4 linked regions of the Homo sapiens genome follow. The protein of the gene in region 4 interacts with the protein of the main gene of each other region in a pairwise test. Each region holds a gene or a part of one and is shown on either strand. Other genes may lie near its edges. The genes, in order: SEPTIN2, RASA4, SLC25A20 and JPT2.

Region 1 (5,894 bases), on a different chromosome or scaffold from region 4:
GCCTGGTGCCTGTGAGAATGCCCACCATGCAATGAGCATTTGAGTGCTAGGGTTTTAATTGATTGACTGATGAATGCATTCGTATTTCAACTTCAGCCCAGTTCTTTCTCCCCTCAAGCCCCATCCCCCACACTACTGCCTGCTTGATAGGTCCGATTGTGGGATTTCACTGCTGACTGCTGGCTGCCTGTTGAATGAAATACAGATCCCCAGGTCGCTAGCCTGGTGTTGATGGAACTCTCCACTTTGTAATTCCAATTTTTGTTTCCTTATCCAACTGGATGTCTTAGATTCCAACCTTTTGAATTTCTTATTCTCAAAATGCACCCCATGTGTCCTCTCTGTGCCTTTGACGAGGTTTTGTTTTTTTTTCTTTCTTTCTTCCTTTTTTTCCATCTGGGGTACTTCTCCCTTCTCTCTGCTTTTAAGACTCCTGCCTGTTCTCCAGGGTCTTCTCATGCCTGTAGCTTCTCTGTGGCAATTACCCTTCTTGAGGCTGATTGTGGTGTGATTTCCATTTTAGCTGTTGTGCTGGGGCTATCGTTAGTCTTCCTGCTGCTTTGTACATTGAGGGTAGTGGTGCATTATTGCTAATGTTATTTTTATTCTGTACAGAGGATCCTCAAAATTCAAGTATAAATACCTTTCTAGCAGTTTTGTAAATTTTTTTTTTTTTTTTTTTTTTTTGAGACGGAGTCTTGCTCCGTCACCCAGGCTGAAGTGCAGTGGTCTCAGCTCACTGCAAGCTCCGCCTCCCGGGTTCACGCCATTCTCCTGCCTCAGCCTCCCCAGCAGCTGGGACTACAGGCGTCCACTGCCACGCTTAGCTAATTTTTTTGTATTTTTAGTAGAGACAGGGTTTCACCATGTTAGCCAGGATGGTCTCCATCTCCTGACCTTGTGATCCACCTGCCTCGGCGTCCCAAAGTGCTGGGATTACAGACGTGAGCCACCACACCCGGCCGCAGTTTTATAAATTTATTTGACAGTAACTTTCGTCATCAGTTTGATTATTGACATTTGTATGATTTCCAATATATTTCTTACAAGATGAGCTAGAATTGGCTACAATAACATACGCAGTTTGCTAAAATTGATCCTGGTTTTGTCATTCTCTCAGATTCTGGATGAAATTGAAGAACATAACATCAAAATCTATCACTTACCTGATGCAGAATCAGATGAAGATGAAGATTTTAAAGAGCAGACTAGACTTCTCAAGGTAAGAACTGGCTTCAGATCCACAACATAAATAACTCCTGTTTACTGTTGTCCATGTTGAGGTGAGAGAGATTGCCTGGGTATGTTCAGTTACGAGAGTATTTTTGCTTTCAATATATTTTAAGACCTCATGCAGTGGCTCATGCCTATAATCCCAGCACTTTGAGAGGCCAAGGCAGATGGATCAGTTGAGGCCAGGAGTTCCAGACCATCCTGGCCAACATGGTGAAATCTCATCTCCATCAAAAATACAAAAATTAGGTGGATGTGGTGGTGCACACCTGTAGTCCCAGCCACTCGGGAGGCTAAGGCAGGAGAATCACTTGAACCCAGGAGGCAGAGGTTGCAGTGAGCCGAGATCGCGCCTCTGCACTCTAGCCTGGCGACAGAGCAAGACTCTGTCTCAAAAAAAAAAAAAATTTGATACAGCTATCACCTAAAGCTTAGAAATTTTATTGTAGGTTTAATTTGTTTTCGTACAATTTGTCCCATGTAGAAAGTATCTGACACTTTTCAAGAAAATGTTACATACCCCCAGCTTTCCAATTCAGTTTTGTAGTCAACAGCAATGTGTTAAGTCTGTGCTAATGTTCTCGTGTTGCCAGTGAACTCTGGGGTTCCCTGTGTGGAGCCTGTCTACTCTGTGTGTCTCTTTCTAGGCTAGCATCCCATTCTCTGTGGTTGGATCCAATCAGTTGATTGAAGCCAAAGGAAAGAAGGTCAGAGGCCGCCTCTACCCCTGGGGTGTTGTGGAAGTGGAGAACCCAGAGCACAATGACTTTCTGAAGCTGAGAACCATGCTCATGTAAGACATTTGGTGTGTTCCTTCTGGCAGAATTTGGCGTGAAGAATATGGATTTCAGACGGGGTGTACACTTGGCCCCCAAGATAGTTGCAGCCAGCAGCTTCATTGCCGCCCTCAGTGTTTCTCACATCGCAGAAGTGGTGTGGGGCTGTTGCAGATTGGTGCTGAGAACCCTCACCCAGGGGCCCTCTGTGGCACTACTAAACTAGCGCTTCTGCCTGTGGCCTGTAGCCTGCAGTACCTTTCCTTCTTGCTAAGATCTTACATCTTTGATGTTAAAAGGAGAAAAGGAGACTAGAACCTAAACTGGGGTCTGAGAGGTCCCCAGTGCTGGTAAGGAAACAGTCAGGCTGTATAGGCCCCTGGTCCACTGCTCCAGGCTGAGCCACCCCTGGTGCCCTGCTCACCAGTCTGAGACTCATTGTATGGCCCTGGTTAGCTTTTTGTGTCTTCCATTTATTATTAATAGCAATTACAGACCTGACTACAAAAATAGTCTTCTTTAAAAATGAATTTCATGGCTGGGCGTGGTGGCTCACACCTGTAATCCCAGCACTTTGGGAGGCTGAGGCAGGCAGATCACGAGGTCAGGAGTTCAAGACCAGCCTGACCAACATGGTGAAACCCCATCTGTACTTAAAGTGCAAAAAATAAATTAGCCAAGCGTGGTGGTGCGCACCTGTAATCCCAGCTACTCAGGAGGCTGAGGCAGGAGAATCACTGTTGAACCAGGAGGCAGAGGTTGCAGTGAGCCAAGATTGCACCACTGCACTCCAGCCTGGGCGACAGAGCGAGACTCTGTCTCAAAAAAATAATAAATTAAATAAATAAATTTCACATATTGTAACATGCATACATTGCTTTTACTCTTGAAAAAAGAGGCTGAGGCCGGGTGCGGTGGCTCATGCCTGTACTCCTGGCATTTTGGGAGGCCCAGGCGGGCGGATCACTTGAGGTCAGGAGTTTGAAACCAGCCTGGCTGACATGGTGAAACCAGCCTGGCCGACATGGTGAAACCAGCCTGGCCAACATGGTGAAACCCTGTCTCTACTAAAAATACAAAAAAATTAGCCGAGTGTGGTGGTGGGTGCCGGTATTCTCAGCTACTTGGGAGGCTGAGGCAGGAGAATCGCCTGAACCTGGAGGTGGAGGTTGCAGTGAGCCGGGATTGCGCCACTGCACTCCAGCCTGGGCAACAAGAGCAAGACTTCATCTCAAAAAAAAAAACCAAAAAGAACAGGCTGAGAGTATTGCTTAAACTATACCTCTTTAATCAGAGGACTTCAAAGAATGACTGATGTGGATAAATCAGTGTTTTGATTAGCTGAAAGTCGCTACATATTTGCCGCATGTCTCACTTAGTTTAGCAATTTGTAGTGAGTTAAAATAAGTAAGCATGTTACCATCCAAGCTGTGTCAAACACAATTTAATGGTTGTGTAAGAAGTTAAGCGCACTCAGCCCCTCCAGGGCTGCATCCTTGTGGCTATCCTGATCCCCATTATTGAGGGGGGTGTAGAGGCTGAAGACAGGGTTTGGGGACTTTACTTTAGTGTCAGTTGTGTGTTTCTCACAATGAGGTAGAGTGAGCCACTCCTTGGCTATCTCAATCCATTTCCCTGGATCCTGAATCAATAGGAACGTGTTACAATGTTTGCTCATTCTTGCCTGCTTTTAAGTATTTTGAATAAGCTAGGCAATTAAAAAAAATTTTTTAAGAGTGCTTCATAAGATGAATGGAAGGTTAAGTTGCTGACTAATATTCTTGGATCCAGAATATTAGTCCTTCACTTTATGGTCTTGTACATAGCTTAAGCTAACCAACTCTTTTTTCTCATATGAGAGTAATATATAAATTTTGAGTTATAGGAGGCATGAATATTTTCATTACATTTTCCGTAAGTCCTTTTAGAAGAGTGTCTTCTATTTCAGACATTGTTGACCTGAAAATCTCTTAAAATCTGTCTGCCATCCTGTGGTAGTGATGGCCTCACACAGGGGTGGCAGTGCCTCTAGCAGAAATCCCCCTGAGAGACTCAGTCGAGACCTGTGTTTGTATATCATTTATTGGGGAAGAAAGGGAGAGCTACACCTCACTAGACATTTCCACGGCCATACTCATTATCCTGAAATCCCAGCAGCTTTATGTACAATTTACCAAGTAATTTTAATTACTGCTATTTCTTCTATGTACTTGATGGGTGGTTTTTTTTCTCATGAGAATGTCATGTGCATGATGCCACCTTGGTGCATTCCTCTTCTCTTTCAGCACCCACATGCAGGATCTCCAGGAGGTGACCCAGGACCTTCATTATGAAAACTTCCGTTCTGAGAGACTCAAGAGAGGCGGCAGGTCATCACACTGTGCCCCTTTCTCTGTATTGTGTCACCCTGAGCCACAATGTTCCTCCTCCTCTATGTGTTCAGCTCAGCCTTCTTGACCATTAAGCAACATGGTTTGGTTTCCTACTCAAAAGTTATTATAAAAGAGTTGTTAATTTAATCAAATTATGCTCTTTTAGCCTTTTTAAGAAAAAGTACATTTAATGATATGCACGTAAAAACTTTAGGCCAGGCACGGTGGCTCATGCCTGTAATCCCAGCACCTTGGGAGACCAAGGCAAGGTAGATTGCCTGAGCGCAGGAGTTTTGAGACCATGAGATTACATGGTGAAGTCCCATCTCTACAAAAATTTAAAAAAAAAAAAATTAATTTAGCCGGGCATGGTGGCACACACCTATAATCCCAGCTACTCGGGAGGCTGAGTTGGGAGGAGCAGTTGAGCCTGGGAGGTGCAGTGAGCCATAATTGCACCACTGCACTTTATCCTGGGCAATAAAACAAGACCCTGTCTCAAAAAACAAACAAAAACTTTAGATGGAAAGGCCAGAGGCTTGTGTCGAGTTCTCCTTCAAAAGCATCACTCTGTACGTGAGGACAAACTTGTTGCCATTAGGAAACTGCAGCACCTGAGTTAAGGGTGAGGCCAGGATGAGTGGCATCCAAGCAGCCAGTGGCCGTTGAAGCAGCAGCTTCGATCCTCGCAAAGTCCTGCAGCCATCCTCACTCACCTTTTCTTTTTAACCATTCTAATATGTTTTTATATAAGTTTTCTGGGAGGCCAAGGCAAGTGGATCACTTGAACCCAGTAGTTTGAGACCGGCCCTGGCAACATAGGGAGACCTCGCCTCTATAAAAATTTTTTTTAAATTAGCCAGATGTGGTGGTGCATGCCTGTGGTCCCAGCTACTAGGGGGAGGATTCCTTGAGCCCAGTAGGTCCAGGCTGCAGTGAGCTATGGTCGCACCACCACGCTCCAGACTGGGCAACAGAGTGAGACCCTGTCTCAACAACAAAAGTTTCCTGTGTTGTAATTCATTAAAATTCTCACATTCTAATAATTTGATGGATTTCTAGATACATATGTTGTACACATTGAAGTCTAATTATGAGTTTGGAAATGAGACATTAAGAAAGATTTTAGAGGCAGCAAGAAAATTCCACCCTCTGGAAGCTGAGTAGGCGCTGGCCCTGAGATGGAGATTAGTGTGCTTTGCAGAGCACAGTTCTCAGGTGTGCTTGGGGAGCTTACCCTTTGCCCCTCGTTCACTCACGCAGATCCTGCTCCTTAAATGTGGTGACTACATTCGCATTAATAAAGAATAACATCTCAAAGCAAATTCTTCAGATAATACCTATTTTTGAGTGGGTAACAGCAAGTGTTGTCGCTCAAGCTTAGAGTAAGAAAAGTCTCTTGAATGTTCCATTTCATGTTGTTCGAACTTTTTAAAATCATTCTGTTCCCTTTTTATTCATTATATCTTTAATTAGAAAAATGATAGGCTGGGCGTGGTGGCTCATGCCTGTA
Region 2 (6,643 bases), on a different chromosome or scaffold from region 4:
TAAATGTTAGCACTGCCTGCATCTCTGACTGTAACCTCCCCCTGCCATCATTTGAGAGCCCCCGCCTCCTGGCCAGGTGTGGTGGCTCACACCTGTAATCCCAGCACTTTGGGAGGCCGAGGTGGGCAGATCACGTGAGGCCAGGAGTTCCAGACCAGCCTGGCCAACATGGTGAAACCCCGTCTCTACGAAAAATACAAAAATTAGCCGAATGTAGTGGTGGTGTACAACTGTAATCCCAGCTACTGGGGAGGCTGAGGTAGGAGAATCCCTTGAACCCCGGAGGAGGAGGTTGCAGTGAACCAAGATCGCGCCACTGCACTCCAGCCTGGGCAACAGAGCAAGACTCTGTCTCAGAAATAAATAAAATAAAATAAAGAGCCCCCCCACCTCCAGGGAGCCCCCTGTGAATACCCCAGCTTGCATCCCATCAACCCAAAGCCAGGGGACTCCAGGTGCTAAGAAATCAGGCCTCTGAACACCCCAGGTGCTGGGCTGGGCTGCAGGATCCAGGAGCCATACAAGGAGCTCAGAGGAGGCAGGGAGAGGTCAGTACTGACTGAGGCAACAGGGGACCTCCGTGGGCTGTCCCCCACTACTGGGCTGCTACTGCTTCCAAAGGCCTGGAAGCAGGACCCGAGTCCTGGTGTGCAAGGACTATGAAGAGCCGGGTGGCTGGATCAGAGGTGGGGCAAGAGGACGGTATTGAGAGCAGGCCGAGGCCAGATTTAAGGACCTGGGCCCAACCATGGTCCCCAGTGGGCTGCTGGGACCCAAGCCCTGCCCAGTTCCTTCTTCGCTAGTGTTGAGGCCCCTAGGCTGCCCACCTCTCTCATTTCTCCTTTCCCGAGCCAGTTGCCACTGGCCTGTCTGGCTACTTTCGGGGCCTCTATATTTAGGGCCTTGGCAGTTTCTAGGCTGTGGAAGGAGGAGGATCAGGGAAAACCCCAAAATAGCCTTGGGCCAGTCCCCAAGGCCACTTGGTGTGGGAGGCAGTGGGTCACTGGTCATCGTGAGACTTGGCTCATGCCTAGGTACGTGGGGACGAGAGACAGTGGGAAGAGGCAGGGCAGGAACAGGCAGGCTCTGAAAGCTAGCAGTGATGGGGAATGCAGCTGCGCTCTGTGCCCTTTAGAGGAATAAAAACCCATGAGTAGAAGTGGCAGGAAGGCAGCTGGCAGCTGTGTGAGGACAGCTTCCTCCTTGGAACTGTCTCAGTCAAGATGAGCCACTATGAGAGGTGGTAAGCTCCCCGTCCTCAGAAGTATGCAAGCCCTGGCTGGAGGAGATGCTACTCAGAAGATAGGCGGGGTGCTGGTGAGGCACAGTGAAACTCCAGTACTCAGTGAGGGCCTCCCATGATCTCCAAACCCCTGCCCGACTCTGCAGCCAAATGCTTTGCATAGGATTTCCGAGGCTCAGTCTCACTGAGCCCAGCCGCAAGCTTACAGCCGCGGGCAGGCTAGAATTCTCAGCCTGTCGGCAGCAAAGGCAATCTGAATCCTGACTTCTCTACCTACCCTCTTGGCAAATGGCTTTCACTTCCTGAGCCTCAGTTTCCCAATGTGCAAACCGAGGATGTCTATCTTATAAAGCTAAGAAGAGGATTAAGTGGGGGAAGTCCTCAACACCTCTTATTCTCCCTACTATGGACCCGGTGCCAGGATGAATGAGTCACAGTCCCTGCCCTCACAGTCAGCTGGGACAGGCACCACTTGACGGAGGAACTGCCACACCAGGGGCTTCCTCCTGCCACCCAGAGTGCTGGGGGGCGAGCCCAGGAGCCAGGAACTCTGCCCAAGTGCACCAGGGAATGCCCTGGAGAGGAGAAGTTTGAGAGGAGTCCTGAACATTGAATAGGAGTTTTCTGGAGGACTGAAGTGGAGTGCTTGAAGGCAGAAGTCCCCACACATGGGCGAAAGCAGAGATGTGAAGGGTAGTAGCCCAAATGTGAGGGACTGTTTATGGGATGGTTTAAGAGGCGGCTGACAGGTCAGAGCTGTGTATGCAAGCCACAGGGGAAGATGGGGGGTTGCAAAGGAGACGTGAGTAGGGCAGGCAGGGGGGCAGGGTGAGGATCGAGATCCCAAGGCACCCCTCCACTGTAGATGGAACCCCTTTGCCCAGAGGCAAAGCACTGAGCAGGGAACCAGGCACTGGGCTCCCAGGTGGGCATACTCCAAGAGCTTGGCTGCCCTGGGCTGGAGAGAGCCTGGAGCCAGGCACTAGGGCCAGCTGCTGTGGGGATGAGGAGGGAGGCGACAGACGGAGGGGCTGCTCCTCCCAGCTGCCACCAGCCAGAAGAGGCCAAGATGACCTAGTTCCTAGTGCCAGTGGTGGCAGGGGGTGGGGGATGCTTAAAGGCTGGGCCTGGAGGCTGAGACCCTTCTCAGAGCTCCTCTGCCTTCCCAGCCCACAGACCTCACTGCCAGCTCCCACTCCACCTCCCTCCAAGCCTCCAAGCACAGAAACCCACCTAGGGATGCCCACCGCCCTCCCTTCCCCATTGTCATGGTAACTGCTGAGCTGGGCCTCATCAGACCCAGGGGGCCTGGAACTGGCACTGCTCTCGGTGGTGGCGCGCTGAGCTTGCTGGGAAGCTCACAGGGGCCACCACACATATGTGTGAGCAGAGTGCCTGCCCCCCACCCTGCTCCACCCCCTCGCCCATGCTAGCCACTTCTCTGCATCCAGGAGCCCGGGGCGCCCAAGGGGTGGGGAACTGCAGCTCCGCAGACTTTGGACTCTGTTTCCTCCAGGCTCCACTTTTCCCCCTCCCACCCTCCTCCTCCAGGCAGCCAGTGCCCCTTGACCTTTGAGCTTTCCCCCTCTTCCTCTAGAGGGATTTCAACCCCTAGTTTAAAGAGGGGAAACTGAGGCTCTAGGAGCAGGGAGCTGCCTAAACCCTGTACATGAGGAAGGTGGTGGCAAGACCAAGATGGTGGGCCAGGGGTCAGGCAGCTCAGCCCTGGGACCTACTGAGAAGAGTGGAACAAGGGGCCCCTGAAACCTCCCCAAATCGAGCCAGGGACCAGGGGAATCCCCAGATGTCAGTGCCTGTGAGAAGCCCTAGACTCAAGACCCTGCTCTGCCTGCCACTTGGAGCCAGCATTTCACTTCTCTGAACCTCAGTTTTCTCATCTGTAAAATGGAACGGTGAGAACTGCCTTTCGGGGTGGTTGAGAGGATTAACGGGATGGCTCAGGTGTAAAGCCCAAGGCACAAGCGACAGTTACTACCCTCCTTCCCTCCCCCACAGTCCTGCACCTGTCCTGGCCTCCTGACCTGTTCTCACTTTTCATGCCAGTCCCTCCTACCCGAGTGCACAGCAGGAAGCCCGGGGACAGCCCCTGGGCCCCAGCATGTGCTTCAGGTGCACACTCCGGGGCATTAAGGGCTCTGGAACTACTGAGGAAGACCCTTCCTTTGCGGGGGACACCCCACCCCCTCCAACCCCACCCCGGGGGCAGATCACCAAGACGTCTCCCCTGGCATGTCACCAGGCTCCAGCTCCTGTCGTATCAAAGCCCCTTCCCCTCGTGAGCCGCGGATCGCTGACAAATTCTCGCCCCCTCCCTAGTTCCCAGCCCCCAGCCCTCGGTGACACTTCCCCGCCCCCCGGTTGTCACCCCGTCTGGTGCTCGCAGAAAATGTCACTGTCCCCATTTTCCCCGCCGATCCCCCACCACGGCCGCACTCCCGCACCCTCTCCGCTGCTCTTGTGGGTGGACCCCGGAAAGGTCAGGCGTCCTGGGGGGCAGTGCCCCTCCCCGGAAAGTTGGGGCTCCCACCCCCGGCCGCGCTCACATGTCCTTGGCGGGAAGGTTCTTCCCCTCCACGATGCGGATGTACAGCGAGCTGCGCTTGGCCATCGCGGGGTCCCGGCTCGGGGGAAGCCAGACACCGGGGTCCGGGGTGGCGGGCGGCGGGCGCTGGACTGGGCGCCGCAGGTGGGGCGGGCCGGGGAGGAGGCGGGGGCGGGGGCGGGGCGGCGGGGGCGGGGCTTCGCTGCCACTCCACTCACCCCGCCCCCGCCCCACGTGCGGGGGACACTGCGCCCGGGCCGGCCAATCCGCGACCGGGGTTCCCCAGGGCGGGGAGGGGCCGGCCGGGGCCGCAGCTCTCATTGGCCGTCTGGGGCGTGAGGGGCGGGGCCTGTGAGGAGGCGCTGACACTCGCCGGGCAGCCGGCGCGGTGGCTCGAGGGGGGCGCCCCTGGAGGAGCGGGTGGGGGACACTGCAACCTCCACCTCCCGGTTTCAAGCAATTCTTCTGTCTCAGCCTCCCAAGTAGCTGGGATTGCAGACACGCGCCACCACGCCCAGCTAATTTTTGTATTTTCGGTAGATACGGGGTTTCACCATGTTGGCCAGGCTGGTCTTGAACTCCTGACCTCAGGTAATCTGCCCACCTCGGCCTCCCAAAGTGCTGGGAATACAGGCATGAGCCATCGTGCCTGGCTGTTTTTATGTTTTTTAGAATCAGAAGAAAAAAAATATGTATTTTTTGTATTGGTTGGTTTGTGTGTGTATGTATGTATGTATGTATGTATGTATGTATGTATGTATGCATGCATTTGAAACAGGGGCTTGCTCTGTTGGCTGAAGTGCAGTGGTGCAATCATAGCTCACTGCAGCCTCAATCTCCTGGGTTCAAGCAATCCTACCACCTCAGCCTCCCATGTAGCTGGGACTACAGATGCATACCACCACGACTGGCTAATTTTTTTTATTTTTAGTAGAAATGGGGGGGTCTCATTATGTTGCCCAGGCTGGTCTAGAACTCCTGGCCTCAAGTTATCCTCCTGCCTTGGCCTCCCAAAGGGCTGGGACCACAGATGTGAGCCCACCATGCCTAGTCAAACAGGAGTATAATAGTAATGAATATGTAATAATGAATCTGACCTGACTGGTATCAGTCAGTCTTTATGCCAAAGCAGTTGTAAAATACACATTTGAATATCTTTTTTTTTTTCTTTTTTTTGGGGTGGAGTCTCGCTCTATCACCCAGGCTGGAGTGCAGTAGCGCAATCTCAGCTCACTGCAACCTCTGCCTCCCTGACTCAAGGCATTCTCCTGCCTCAGCCTCCCGAGTAGCCAGAGCTTCAGGGACCTGCCACCACGCCTGGGTAATTTCTATATTTTTAGTAGAGATGGAGTTTCACCAGGTTGGCCAGGCTGGCCTCAAACACCTGACCTCAGGTGAGCTGCCCACTTCGGTCTCCCAGAGTGTTAGGATTACAGGCGTGAGCCACCGTGCCTAGCCGTATTTGAATATCTTAACCCATATAAGTCAAACATGCCTAGGGCTCACAAAAGTTACAGTGCATCCTGGCACAGGAGAGGAGGCAGCTCTTGAGTTTCAGTGCATGCTTTTGATATTCACTATAGGTCAATGTCGTTGAAAGAAAAAGTGTTTGAGGCTGGGCACAGCGGCTCACGCCTATAATCCCAGCACTTTGGGAGGCTTGAGATGGGAGGATCACTTGAGGCCAGGAGTTCAAGCCCAGCCAGGGCAACATAATGAGACCCCCCCCCACCTTTGCTACAAAAAATAAAAATATTAGCCAGGCATGGTAGTGTGTGTCTGTAGTTCGAGCTACTCAGAAAGCCGAGGCAGGAAGATTGCTTGAGCCTAGGAGGGGAGGCTGCAGTGAGGTATGATCGCACCACTGCACTCCAGCGTGGGCGACAGAGCAAAACTCTGTCTCCAAAAACAAAAACAAAAACGAGGCCAGGCGTGGTGGCTCACACCTGTAATCCCAGCACTTTGGGAGGCCGAGGTGGGTGGATCACCTGCGGTCAGGAGTTCGAGACCAGCCTGGCCAACATGGCGAAACCCCATATCTACTAAAAATACAAAAATTAGCCGGGCGTGGTGGCAGGCGCCTGTAATCCCAGCTACTCTGGAGGCTGAGGCAAGAGAATTGCTTGAGAACCCGGGAGGCAGAGGTCGCAGTGAGCCAAGTTCGCACCATCGCACTCTAGCCTGGGTGACAAGAGTGAAACTCAGTCTCAACAAACAAACAAACAAACAAAAAAAGCAAGGAAGGAAATTCTTACACATGCTAAAAGATGGATGAAACTTGAAGACATAATGCTAAGTGAAATGAGCCAGTTACAAAGAAAGACAAATAGTGGTTGCTTCCACCTATGGGAGGTATCTGGAATAGTACAATTCACAGAAGCAGAAAGGAGAGTAGAAGTTTTCAGGGGCTGGAGCGGGGCAGGGAAAGCGAGTTGTTTGTTGAGTGTAGGGTTTCAGTATTGCAAGGTGAAAAAGTTCCAGAGATGTGCATATAGTTAATACTACTGTGCTGTCCACTTAAAAATAGTGAAGATGGGCCAGGGGCGGTGGCTCACGCCTGGAATCCCAGCACTTTGGGAGGCCGAGGTGCGTGGATCGCCTGAGGTCGGGAGTTTGAGACCAGCCTGGCCAACATGGTGAAACTCTGTCTCTACTATAAATATAAAAATTAGCTGGGCGTGGTGGTGCACGCCTGTAGTCCTAGCTATTCAGGAGGCTGAGGCAGGGAGAATCGCTTGAACCTGGGAGGTGGAGGTTGCGGTGAGCTGAGATGGCACCACTGTACTCCAGCCTGAGCGACAGAGAGAGACCTCGTCAAAAAAAAAAAAAGCTTAAGA
Region 3 (5,894 bases), on a different chromosome or scaffold from region 4:
ATCTTGGCTCACTGCAAACTCTACCTCCTGGTGGAGTGATCCTCCCACCTCAGTCTCCTGAGTGGCTGGGACTACAGATGTACATGCGCTACCATGCCCCTCTAATTTTTGCATTTTTTGTAGAGATGACACTCTCTACATGTTGCCCAGGCTGGTCTTAAACTCCTGACCTCAAGTGATCCACCTGCCTTGGCCCCCAAAGCGCTAGGATTAGAGGCGTGAGCCACCACACCCAGCTCAGATGTACATTTTCTTCCATTTCACATCTCAATTATTACTCACTAGTTCTCCGTCGTCTAAATTCCATCTTCCAAAAGAGAGAACCATTTTATTAGCCTTAGTCATCTGTATAAAACAGTAGCTAGAACTATCAGAGACTCCAAAGCAGATGACAACAGGGGGGCACAGGGTGGCGTGGTGAAGGAGCGGCAGCTGTGAGCTAGCTGTCCAGCAGAACCACACAGTTAACCTACTCTCCTTGGGGGTAACAAATCAACCCCGTGAATGTGTTCTGAGTAAGAGGAATGCCCAGCACCATATACCAACCTCTCTAAAAAGAGTCTTCCGGAAACAGTCAAAGGTCCCAGAGTACATGGGAGGTTGTCCAGGCAAACTCGGTGGCTGTGTCTGCAGTCGGACCTGAAAACAGAAGTTAAAATGCAGTCACCTACCAGAATCAGAACTGCCTGTCAGCAGCAATGGCCCAACTGTCTGCCAAACTGAACAGGGAAGGCTGTACCCTTGTACATGTCTTTGGCATTCACTTAACCTGCTGGATTCAAACTTCTCTTTCATTTCATTAGTACTTCATTCCTTTTATTGGCAAATAATATCCCATCGTATGAATAAATCACATTTTGTATGCCTGCCTATTCATCAGTTCATAGACATTTGTGTTTTTCCTACTTTTTGATTATTATGAATAATGCTGCTATAAACATTTGTGTACAAGTTTTTTGTGTGGATATATGTTTTCAGTTCTCTTCGGTATTGTATTGGTCAGAATTCTCCAGAGAAACAGAACCAACAGGAGATATATATCAAGAGATTTATTATAAGCAATTGGCTCATACAATTATAAAGGTTGAGAAGTCCCAAGATCTGTAGTCGGCAAGTTTGAGACCCAAAAAGAACCAATGATTCAGTTCAAGTCTGAAGGCGGGAAAAGACTAATGTCCCACCTCAAGTATTCAGGCAGGAGTTCCCTCTTACTTGCAGGAAGTGTCAGTCAGCCTTTTGATCTATTTAGGCCTTCAACTGGATGAGGTCCACTCACATTAGGGAGGACAATTAGCTTTAATCAGTCCACAGATTCAAATGTTAATATCCAAAACCACCCTCACAAGCACACTCAGAATAATGTGTGACCAAATACCTAGGTACTCTGTGGCCTAGTCAAGGTGACACATAAAATTAACCATCACAGGTATTTATCCACTGGCATAATTTCTAACTTATATGTCAACTCTGTTTAAACCTTTTGAGGAACTGCCAGACTGTTTTGCAAAGTGGCTGCACCATTTTATATTCCCATAAGCAGTCTAGGAGGGTCCCAATTTCTCCATATCTTCAATACTTATTATCTTTATATATATATACTTTTTTTTTTTGGAGACAAGGTTTCACTCTGTCACTCAGGCTGGAGTGCGGCGGTGTGGTCAATAGCTCACTACAACCTTGACCTCCTGGGCTCATGCAATCCTCCCACCTCAGCCCCCCAAGCAGCTGGGACTACAGGTGCACACCACAATGCCAGGCTAATTTTTATTGTTTTTGTAGAGACAGAATCTCACTATATTGCTCTATATCTAACTTTTTTTTTTAAGCCATCATATTGGGTATGAGGTGGTATGTCATTGTGATTTTGATTTGCATTTCCATGATGGATAATGACACTGAACAACTTCTCACATGCTTATTAGCCCATCTTCAGAGAAATGCCTATTTAGGTCCATGGCTGGGTGTGGTGGCTCACATCTGTAATCCCAGAACTTTGGGAGGCAGAGGTGGAAGGATCACTTGAGGCCAGGAGTTCAAGATTACAGAAAACTGTGATGGTGCCACTACACTTCAGCTTGGGTAAAAGAGCAAGACCTGGTCTCTTTTTATTTATTTATTGAGACAGGGTCTCACTGTCTCGCCCATGCTGGAGTGCAGTGGTATGATCTTGGCTCACTGCCACTTTCGCCTCCCAGGCTCAGGTGATCCTCCCACCTCAGCCTCCCAAGTAGCTGGGACCTCAGGTGCATGCCATGCTCGGCTAATTTTGGTTTTTTTGTAGAGATGGGTTTTCACCATGTTGCCCAGGCTGATCTGGAACTCCTGGACTCATACAATCTGCCTGCCTTAGCCTCCCAAAGTGCTACGATTACAGATATGAGCCACCATGGCCAGCCAAGACCCAGTCTCTTTAAAAAAGAAAAAAAAAAAAAAAAAAAAAAAGGAGGCCAGGCGCGGTGGCTCACACCTGTAATCCCAGCATTTTGGGAGGCTGAGGTGGGTCAATAACCTGAGGTCAGGAGTTCAAGACCAGCATGGCCAACATGGCAAAACCCTGTCTCCACTAAAAATACAAAAATTAGCCAGGTGTGGTGGCACGCACCTGTAATCCCAGCTACTTGGGAGGCTGAGGCAGGAGAATTGCTTGAACCCGGGAGGCAGAGGTTGTGGTGAGTCAAAATCGCACCTTTGCACTTCAGCCTGGGCAAGAGTGAGACTCCTTCTCAAAAAAAAAAAAAAAAGAAGAAGATTCTCTCTCTCTCTCTCTCTCTCTCTCTCTCTCTCTCGACAGGGTCTTACAGGCTGGAGTCTTTGCCGATTTTTAATTGGATTGTCTTTTTTTTTTTTTTTGAGGCAGAGTCTTGCTCTGTCACCCAGGCTGGAGTGCAGTGGCTCAATCTCAGTTCACCACAAGCCTCCTGGGTTCAAGTGATTCTCCTGTCTCAGCCTCCCGCGTAGCTGGGATTACAGGTGCGTGCCACCACACCCAGGTAACTTTTGCATTTTTTTTTTTTTTTTTAGTAGAGACAGGGTTTCGCTGTGTTGGCCAGACTGGTCTCGAACTTCTGACCTCAGGTGATCCACCCGCCTCGGCCTCCCAAAGTGCCGGGATTACAAGCATGAGCCACCGGCCCGGCCCTGATAAATGTTTATTGTTGTTTTAAGCCATTAAGTTTTGGGGTAAGTTGGTTTGGTTTTTTGGGTTTTTTTGAGACAAGGTCTTGCTCTGTCACCTAAGCTGGCATGCAGTGGTGCCATCTTGGCTAACTGCAGCCTTAAACTCCTGGGCTCAAGTGATCCTCCTGCCTCATTGGAGGAAACTGGTAAACCACAATAGATAACTGATATATCCAGTTACTTCTGCAGTCTTTTTCCTGAATTTTGTTTTGTTTTGTTTTGTTTTGAGACAGAGTTTCACTCATTGCCCAGACTGGAGAGCAATGGCATGATCTTGGCTCACCGCAACCTCTGCCTCCCAGGTTCAAGCGATTCTCCTGCCTCAGCCTCTCAAGTAGCTGGGATTACAGGCATGTGCCACCACTCCCGGATAATTTTGCATTTGTATATTTATTTTTATTTATTTATTTATTTTTTGAGATGTAGTTTCACTCGTCGCCCAGGCTGCACAGCAATGGTGCGATCTGGGCTCACCGCAACCTCTGCCTCCTGGGTTCAAGCGATTCTCCTGCCTCAGCCTCCCAAGTAGCTGGGATTACAGGTATGCACCACCAAGCCCAGCTAATTTTGTGTTTTTAGTAGAGATGGGATTTCTCCACGTTGCTCAGGTTGGTCTCGAACGTCCAATCTCAGGTGATCTGCCCGCCTCAGCCTCCCAAAGTGCTGGGATTATAGGCGTGAGCCACCATGCCTGGCCTAATTTTGTATTTTTAGTAGAGACGGAGCTTCTCCATGTTGGTCACCTGCTCTTGAACTCCCAACCTCAGGTGATCTGCCCGCCTCAGACTCCCAAAGTGGGATTACAGGCGTGAGCCACCGCGCCCAGCCCTTCCTGGATGTTTTTCCTGCTCACTGTTCTGCTTCCAAATCCTTCTCAAGGTTGCTATTATACTAACCTTTCCAAAACATCATTTTTACCATGTTGTTTCTTTATTTCTTTGGAATCTCTTATTCTTGTATTTGTCAGGTCCTTCTATATCATCATTTTTACCATTTTTTTAATAATTTCTTTAGAATTTATTATTCTTGTATTTGTCAGGGCCTTCCATATCAAACCAAGGAAGTCCCTCTCTGGGCAACAGAGGTGACACGTAAGTCTGAGGGGTTTATGGGACACAATAGAAATGCCCAGAGGCCACCATACCTTTACATCCAAAATCCCTCATATTGTCCTTCAGATCTCCCATAGTCAGGCATAACCTCCCCTAGTTAGTAGAGAGAGAGAAATGGATCAAAGCTTCTGACTAGACCAGGTACAGTGGCTCACACCTATAATCCCAGCACTTCAGGAGGCCAAGGCCGGAGGATCACTTGAGGCCACGAGTTTGAGACCAGCCTGCCCAACATGGAGAAACCCCATCTCTACTAAAAATACAAAAATTAGCCAGGCATGGTGGTGGGCACCTATAATCCCAGCTACTCAGGAGGCTGAGGCAAAAGAATTGCTTGAACTCGGGAGATGGAAGTTGCCATGAGCCAAGATCCTGCCACTGTACTCCAGCCTGGGTGACAGAGGGAGAGTCTTGTCTCAAAAAAAAAAAAAAAAAAAATTCTGACTAATACCTTGTTGTGATTTTTTTTTTCTTTTGAGACAGTGTCTCATTCTGTTGCCCAGAATGGAGTGCAAAGGCTCACTGCAGCCTCAAACTCCTAGGTTCAACCGATCCTCCAGCCTCAGCCGCCTGAGTAGCTGGGATTACAGATGTGCACCACCATGCCCAGCTAATTTTTGTATTTTTTATAGACATGAGGTCTTGCCATGTTGCCAAGGCTGCCTTTTTGTGATTTTATATACACTTCATACCTCATACCTGTCTCAACAGGATATCAGCCATCCAAACCAGCAAGAACATTAAAGTCCTTTGCAGGTGGTTTTTGTTTTGTTTTGTTTTGTTTTGTTTTGTTTTGTTTTGTTTTTGGGAAGGAGTCTCACTCTGTCACCCAGGCTGGAGTGCAATGGCACAATCTCAGCTCACTGCAACCTCCGCCCTGTGGGTTCAAGCGATTCTCCTGCCTCAGCCTCCCAATTAGCTGGGATTACAGGCACCTGCCACCACATGCAGCCAATTTTTTTTTTTTGTATTTTTAGTAGAGATGGGATTTCACCATGTTGGCCAGGCTGGTCTCGAACTCCTGACCTCAGGTGATCCACCTGCCTCAGCCTCCCAAAGTGCTGGGATTAACAGGCATGAGCCCACCGTGACCGGCCTAGGTTGTCTTATTTTATAATATGATCCCCACTTGCAAGCCACACTCACCTTCACTCCTGCCTTCCCATCAGACTGTCTGGGTCTCCCTACTCCTTCAGTCTGAACTCACCCAGCACTTGAATGCCTGTTCTAACGCACCACCTTCCATAGAGCCTTTTCATGACCCACTCTGAAGCGCTGCAGCTTTTGCCTTGTCAGGACACACAGCCCACAGCTCAGTTACACTATCTTGGACTTCTTTTTTTTCTTCTTCTCCTTTTTTTTTTTTTTTTTTAACCTTGGAACTCTGAAAGTACCTTAAGGTCAGGCTTTGATTGGAGCCCACCCAGCTCACTAAGGCCAAAAACACAGCAGTCAGCAATTTGTGGTTTTGGTTTAAGCTAAAAAGAGGCTTTCTGGTTGCTAAATATGCCAGTGAGCATTTCAGTTATTTGCACTTCAGTGCAGAGGTCATCCAGTCCTTCTTGGGAGTGACATCAAGGACAAAGGTGATATGGAGGTAGGAGC
Region 4 (5,894 bases):
GCGTGGGAAACAAGTGAGACCTTGTCTCTACAAAAATATTTTAAAATTAGCCTCTGGTCCCGCTCCTCAGAAGGTTGAGGTGAGAGGACTGCCTGAGCTCAGAAGTTGGAGGCGGTGAGCTGTGATGGTGCCACTGCACTGTAGCCTGGGTGACAGACTAAGATCCTGTCTCAAAAAACCAACAAAACAAAAAAAAGGTAATAAATAATCATACCTACCTAGGGTCACTGGTGAGGCTAAACAAGTTAACTCAGGTGACGTGGTTAGAATAGTCCTGGCCTGCTGAGTAAGCCCTCAGCAATGCTGCAGGGCTGTGTCAACAAGCACGTCAGGACCACGGGGCGGATAAAACTGTGTGTGCAACCCCCAGCCCCCACTGCAATGTTCCTGGCTGTGCTATAACGGCTGACTTTTTTTTTTTTTAATGTGACTCCAGCTTTTTAAAATAGAAGATAAAAGTAACTCAATTTGAAGTTTTTGGCCAAAGACATCACTCATTTTTAAAAAATAGTTAAACTGTGAAACATAACAGAAAAGTCTGTAAGACATTAACTATCACAAATAACTACAAGGCAGACACCAGGTAACCACTGCCAAAGTCATCGAGAACAGTGCCCGTTCCCAGAAACTCCTGTGTTCCTTCACTCTCACCCAAGGTTACCACACTCCTGAATTTTTTGGAAACCACAAACATTTTTACCACGTATACGTGCAATAGGTACTAAACAATGTACCTCTGCTTTTAACCTTCATAACTAGGTAGTCATACCACATATGTCTATTACCATTTTACTTGAAAAATAAATTCAGCTTTGAAGCAAGAAAACATGCTTAAATTCACTAATAATTGAAGATAAACTCGAGAGATGTTTTTTCCTCCTGCTAGATTTTTGATTTCCAAGGGCTCTGTGTTATTTTGTTTTTAAAAATATCATTTATTTATTTGGGAGATTGGGCCTCGCTATGTTGCCCAAGCCAGTTTCAAACTCCTGGGCTCAGGCAATCCTCCCACCTCGGCCTCCCAAAATGCTGGGATTACAGGCGTGAGCCACCGCACCTGGCCTACAAGATTTGTTTTTAAAAGCAAAACTAAAAGATAAATACTGCTGGTGCAAATAAGCACATACACAAGAATGGTAAACACCAGGCAATGCCCTGAAAAACCGGTTGGAACTATCTATCCATATTTTAAACTCATATATCATCTGATCTACCAATTCCATTTTGAGAAATTTATCCCAGTGGATACATTCAGGAAGTCAGTTTAAGGCATGGAATCTGGAGTCAGAAAAACCTCAATTCAAAGGCTAGCTCTGCCACCGACTAGCACTGCTACCGGCTAGGTCTGCTACCGACTAGCTCTGCTACGGACTAGTTCTGCTACCGACTAGCTCTGCTACTGACTAGCTTGGGATTTATGCATGCCAGTGACCTTTTCCAAGCCTGTTTCCTCCTCTGTGAAAGGAGCAAAACAACCTACTCCTAGTTATAGCGAACACCAAATGAAAAATACACATGCAAAGCACTTAGCACAGTCCCCGGTAAATATTAACAATTCATAGACGTTGGTCATCATTGCTAGAAGAGGAAGAACAATTCATGGAACATCTAAACCAGGTGACTAACAAAGAACACAGAGACTACTGAAGATTCACTGAAACACTGAATGGGAATTGATAAACATTCGATGGCTATGATGTGGTCGGTCACACACACTCTCGGCCTCTGCATACTTTTCTCAATCAAGCCCTGCAACTAGAGGGCTGTGGGGCTAGGTCTGTGTGACTAAGTGTAGAAAGAAGGCAGGACTCCAGATCTCGTTGGGTGGTGAACACAACTAGCAGTTTCCCTTTCAGGCTTCCCTTGATAATATACCATAAACCGTCTTCCAAGAGCACTGGAGAGATAGGAAAACTCCCAACAACCGTGAGAAGGACCATGAGAAGCAGGAACCTGGCATGGGGAGCCATGATGGCTGGCACCACACACTGTGACCAGGAGTAGAGGCTGGCTCACTAACCGCAAGGGGCCGGGCTCCCCACTGGGCATGAGACCATGTGGAACGGGCAAAGTGGTACCGCCTGCCTTCCATGGAGTGCTCTAGGAACAGCTCCAGACATGACTCTGCTGAGTAGGGGCCAAATGAGCAGATTCATACACCTGGAAATGGCTCAGATAGGATTCTATCTTGCATGCGATATATTATTCTGCTATCCTTGCTAAAAAGGACATGCAGGAGTCCCTGGGCCTAAATTCATAAACCGGAAACAACGAGAATGTTAGTCACTTAATAAGAAACACTCATTTCTCTAACAACCAAAAAAGCAACCAAACAGACCAAAAAAAGGCAAGCAGCAAACCTAGCTTCGGCCGGGCACAAGGGTGCATGTCTGTAATCTCAGCAATTTGAGAGGCCGAGGTGGGCAGATGGCTTGAGCCCAGGAGTTCGAGACCAGCCTAGGCAACATGGTTAAACCCTGTCTCCACAAAAAATACAAAAAAAAATTACCTAAGCATGGTGGCATACGCCCGTAGTCCCAGCCACTCAGGAGGCTGAGGAAAAAGGGTCACCTGAGCCTGGGAAGTCAAGGCTGCAGTGAGTCATGGTGGTGACACTGCACTCCAGCCTGGGCGACAGAGTGAGACCCCGTCTCAAAACAGACTAAAAACAAAAGAAAAAACTAGTTTCTGGATCTACTGCTTTTTTTCCTCTACATTTGGTCAATAAATATTGGTACCCCAAAACGGAGTGAGGTCGGGAGTGGATCTGGCTCTGATTCATGACCTGCCTGACACAGTGACACCTAAGCACGGCCTCTCAAACCTTCTAAGGATGGAAGAGACCATGCTTTCCCCTCTTGTACAGACGGGGGAAAGCGACTCAGGTAACCTCCACTGGGTGGTTATTCAACTGGACAGTCTATCAGCCAAGAGAAACCTTTTTCTATTTTTTTTTTTTTTTCTTTTTGAGATGGAGTCTAGCTGTCACCCAGGCTGGAGTGCAGTGGCATGAATTTGGCTCACTGCCACCTCCACCTCCCGGGTTCAAGTGATTCTCCTGCCTCAGCCTCCTGAGTAGCTGGGATTATAGGCGTGCACCACCACACCCAGCTAATTTTTGTATTTTTAGTACAGATGGAGTTTTGCCATGTCGGCCAGGCTGGTCTCAAACTCTTGACCTCATGATCACCTGCCTTGGCCTCCCAAAGTGCTAGGATTACAGGCATGAGCCACCACGCCCGGCTGAGAAACCTTTTTCTTTTTCTTTTTCTTTTTTTTTTTGAGACGGAGTCTCGCTCTGTCACCCAGGCTAGAATGCAGTGGTGCGATCCCGGCTCACTGCAAGCTCCGCCTCCTGGGTTCATGCCATTCTCCTGCCTCAGCCTCCTGAGTAGCTGGGACTACAGGTGCCCGCCACCACGCCCGGCTAATTTTTTTTCTTTTTTAGTAGAGATGGGGTTTCACTGTGTTAGCCAGGATGGTCTCGATCTCCTGACCTCGTGATCTGCACACCTTGGCCTCCCAAAGTGCTGGGATTACAGGCATGAGCCACCGCGCCTGGCCAAGAAACCTTTTTCAAAGAGTCCCTCCTACTGTAACCACTAGGAGGTTGGGTAAATACTGAAGAACTATGTAGATGTGTGCTAGATCAATTCTTCCTTGTTAAGAGTTTCAATCCCACTGACGATCTGAATAAAAACACTCTCCCTCCCTAGGAAAAATGTTTAAATGCACAATAATTTGCACGCAATTTCAGGAATCTCATGGGGGTCCGTGGAACAATTGGGAGCAGCTCCCTGGCAGGAACCAGAAGCCCCCGTCCACTTTTGTGTCCTCAGTGCCTGTATTCAACCAAAGTCTCCAGAACAGATGGAGAATTCAAGACTACTCAAGTCACCTTCAAGAGAGAAAGTACAAATCAGAACGTTTTCATTTTGGAAGAACTCTGATAACAAGTGATTACCTGAACCAGACAATATGGGAAAGGATCAGTATAAAGAAACAGAAAATATTTTCAAAAGAGAATCGTGGAGGCCAAAGGATTAAGGATTTCCAAAGGCCCATACCTGGGGGATTTGTCCTCTTGGGTATGTTCTGAGGTTCTTCTGTTGGTCCAAAAATATTAGATGCCATCCTATTAGGCCTGCTGGAAGGAGTAGCTTCTTCTGGACTTCCAAAAAGATTGCTCGATTCTCCTCCTGGGGGCTTCATGGCCCTACAAGCACAGAGTACATGCCAATTACTGATGGCAGACCTGAAAGCTTGTCACTGTGCAAGGATTTTGGCACAACTAGACAGGGTAAAAGTATTTTGTTTTTTTCTTTTTGAGACAAGGTCTCATTCTGTCACCCAGGCTGGAGCGCAGTGACGTGATTTTGGCTCACTGCAACCTCTGCCTCCTGGGCTCAAGTGATCCTCCCACCTCAGCCTCCTGAGTAGCTGGGATTACAGGCACCCACCACCACAGCTGGCTAATTTTTTGTATTTTTGGTAGAGACAGGGTTTTGCCATGTTGCCAAAGTTGGTCTTGAACCCCTAAGCTCAAGTGATCTGCCCACCTTGGCGTCCCAAAGTGCTGTGATTACAGGTATGAGCCACCATACCCAGCAAAAGTATTTTCTTAACATCTACTGAGAAATCACATACCACCATTAGTTAATACTGGTATGACTAGTTTACAGACGCCAGACTACTTCTGCTGCTCTTTAGTTTCCCTTAAAAGTATTCTTTTTTTTTTTTTTTTGAGATGGAGTCTCGCTCTGTCGCCCAGGCTGGAGTGCAGTGGCACGATCTCAGCTCACTGCAACCTCTGCCTCCTGGGTTCAAGTGATTCTCCAGCCTCAGTCTCCTGAGTAGCTCAGATTACAGGTGCCTGCCACAACACCTGGCTAACTTTTGTTTGTTTTTTTTGAGACGGAGTTTTACTCTTGTTGCCCAGGCTGGAGGAATGCAATGGCGCAATCTCAGCTCACCACAACCTCCGCCTCCTGGGTTCAAGCAATTCTTCTGCCTCAGCCTCCCACGTAGCTAGGATTACAGGTATGCGCCACCACACCCAGCTAATTTTGTATTTTTAGTAGAGACGGGGTTTCGCCATGTTGGTCAGGTTGGTCTCGAACTCCTGACCTGGGGTGATCCACCTGCCTCGGCCTCCCAAAGTGCTGGGATTACAGGTGTGGGCCATCGCACCTGGCTCTTGAATCACTTTTTATTGTAAAAACTTAAACTTAAGAACTAATAAGGAATTGCCACAAAGCTCTATTTCTAGAGCACTATCTACATTAAAAACCGGTGAAACGCTGAATTCATAACAACTGGAAAAACTTTTAAATGCATTTGAGAGAGAGGCTTACTGAAATTGAGATTTAAACCAGTGAGTGGCACATGCTCTCTCACTAGTCCTAAGCAATGGGACTGTCTGTGATCCCAGACGTTTAGAAACGAAGTCAGCCCTCTGTATCCACGGGCTCTGCTTCCATGGATTCAACCAACCTCAGATCAAAATGTCAGAAATAAAAGGATGGTTGCATCTGTACTGAACATCTACAGACTTCTTTTCTGTCATTATTCCCCAGGTGATACGGTGTAACAACTATGTGCATAGTATTAGGTATTATATGTAACCTTGTAACCTAGAGATGATTTAAAAGCATATGGAGGATGTGCATAGGTTATATGCAAACATTACACCACTTTATATCAAGGACTTACACATCCTTGGATTTTGGCATCCTGGGGGTCCTGGAACCAACTCCCGCAGGATACCAAGGATGACCATACTTGAAATTACAGGGCTCAACATCACACAAAAACTATGATATGAGGTTAGATCTCACTGGAAAGCTTTGCAAACACTGACCACTCAAGGTTTGGTTAACAAAAATAACAGTTTC

Evidence for each region.
Region 1: the proteins of JPT2 (region 4) and SEPTIN2 interact in a two-hybrid assay, tested with the Homo sapiens proteins (one large-scale study listed by BioGRID).
Region 2: the proteins of JPT2 (region 4) and RASA4 interact in a two-hybrid assay, tested with the Homo sapiens proteins (one large-scale study listed by IntAct).
Region 3: the proteins of JPT2 (region 4) and SLC25A20 interact in a two-hybrid assay, tested with the Homo sapiens proteins (one large-scale study listed by IntAct).

Annotation. Positions count from the first base shown.
Region 1 is NC_000002.12:241,341,872-241,347,765, forward strand, and holds part of SEPTIN2 (septin-2), read left to right. Parts: intron 1-1,120; coding exon 1,121-1,222; intron 1,223-1,880; coding exon 1,881-2,026; intron 2,027-4,294; coding exon 4,295-4,378; intron 4,379-5,894.
Region 2 is NC_000007.14:102,612,818-102,619,460, forward strand, and holds the start of RASA4 (ras GTPase-activating protein 4), read right to left. Parts: upstream 3,940-6,643; 5' UTR 3,873-3,939; coding exon 3,808-3,872; intron 3,729-3,807; exon of another isoform or gene 3,706-3,728; intron 1-3,705. UniProt on the Homo sapiens protein: Ca(2+)-dependent Ras GTPase-activating protein, that switches off the Ras-MAPK pathway following a stimulus that elevates intracellular calcium. Functions as an adaptor for Cdc42 and Rac1 during FcR-mediated phagocytosis.
Region 3 is NC_000003.12:48,891,434-48,897,327, forward strand, and holds part of SLC25A20 (mitochondrial carnitine/acylcarnitine carrier protein), read right to left. Parts: intron 640-5,894; coding exon 547-639; intron 1-546. UniProt on the Homo sapiens protein: Mediates the electroneutral exchange of acylcarnitines (O-acyl-(R)-carnitine or L-acylcarnitine) of different acyl chain lengths (ranging from O-acetyl-(R)-carnitine to long-chain O-acyl-(R)-carnitines) with free carnitine ((R)-carnitine or L-carnitine) across the mitochondrial inner membrane, via a ping-pong mechanism.
Region 4 is NC_000016.10:1,683,761-1,689,654, reverse strand, and holds part of JPT2 (jupiter microtubule associated homolog 2), read right to left. Parts: intron 4,217-5,894; coding exon 4,068-4,216; intron 1-4,067. UniProt on the Homo sapiens protein: Nicotinic acid adenine dinucleotide phosphate (NAADP) binding protein required for NAADP-evoked intracellular calcium release. Confers NAADP-sensitivity to the two pore channels (TPCs) complex.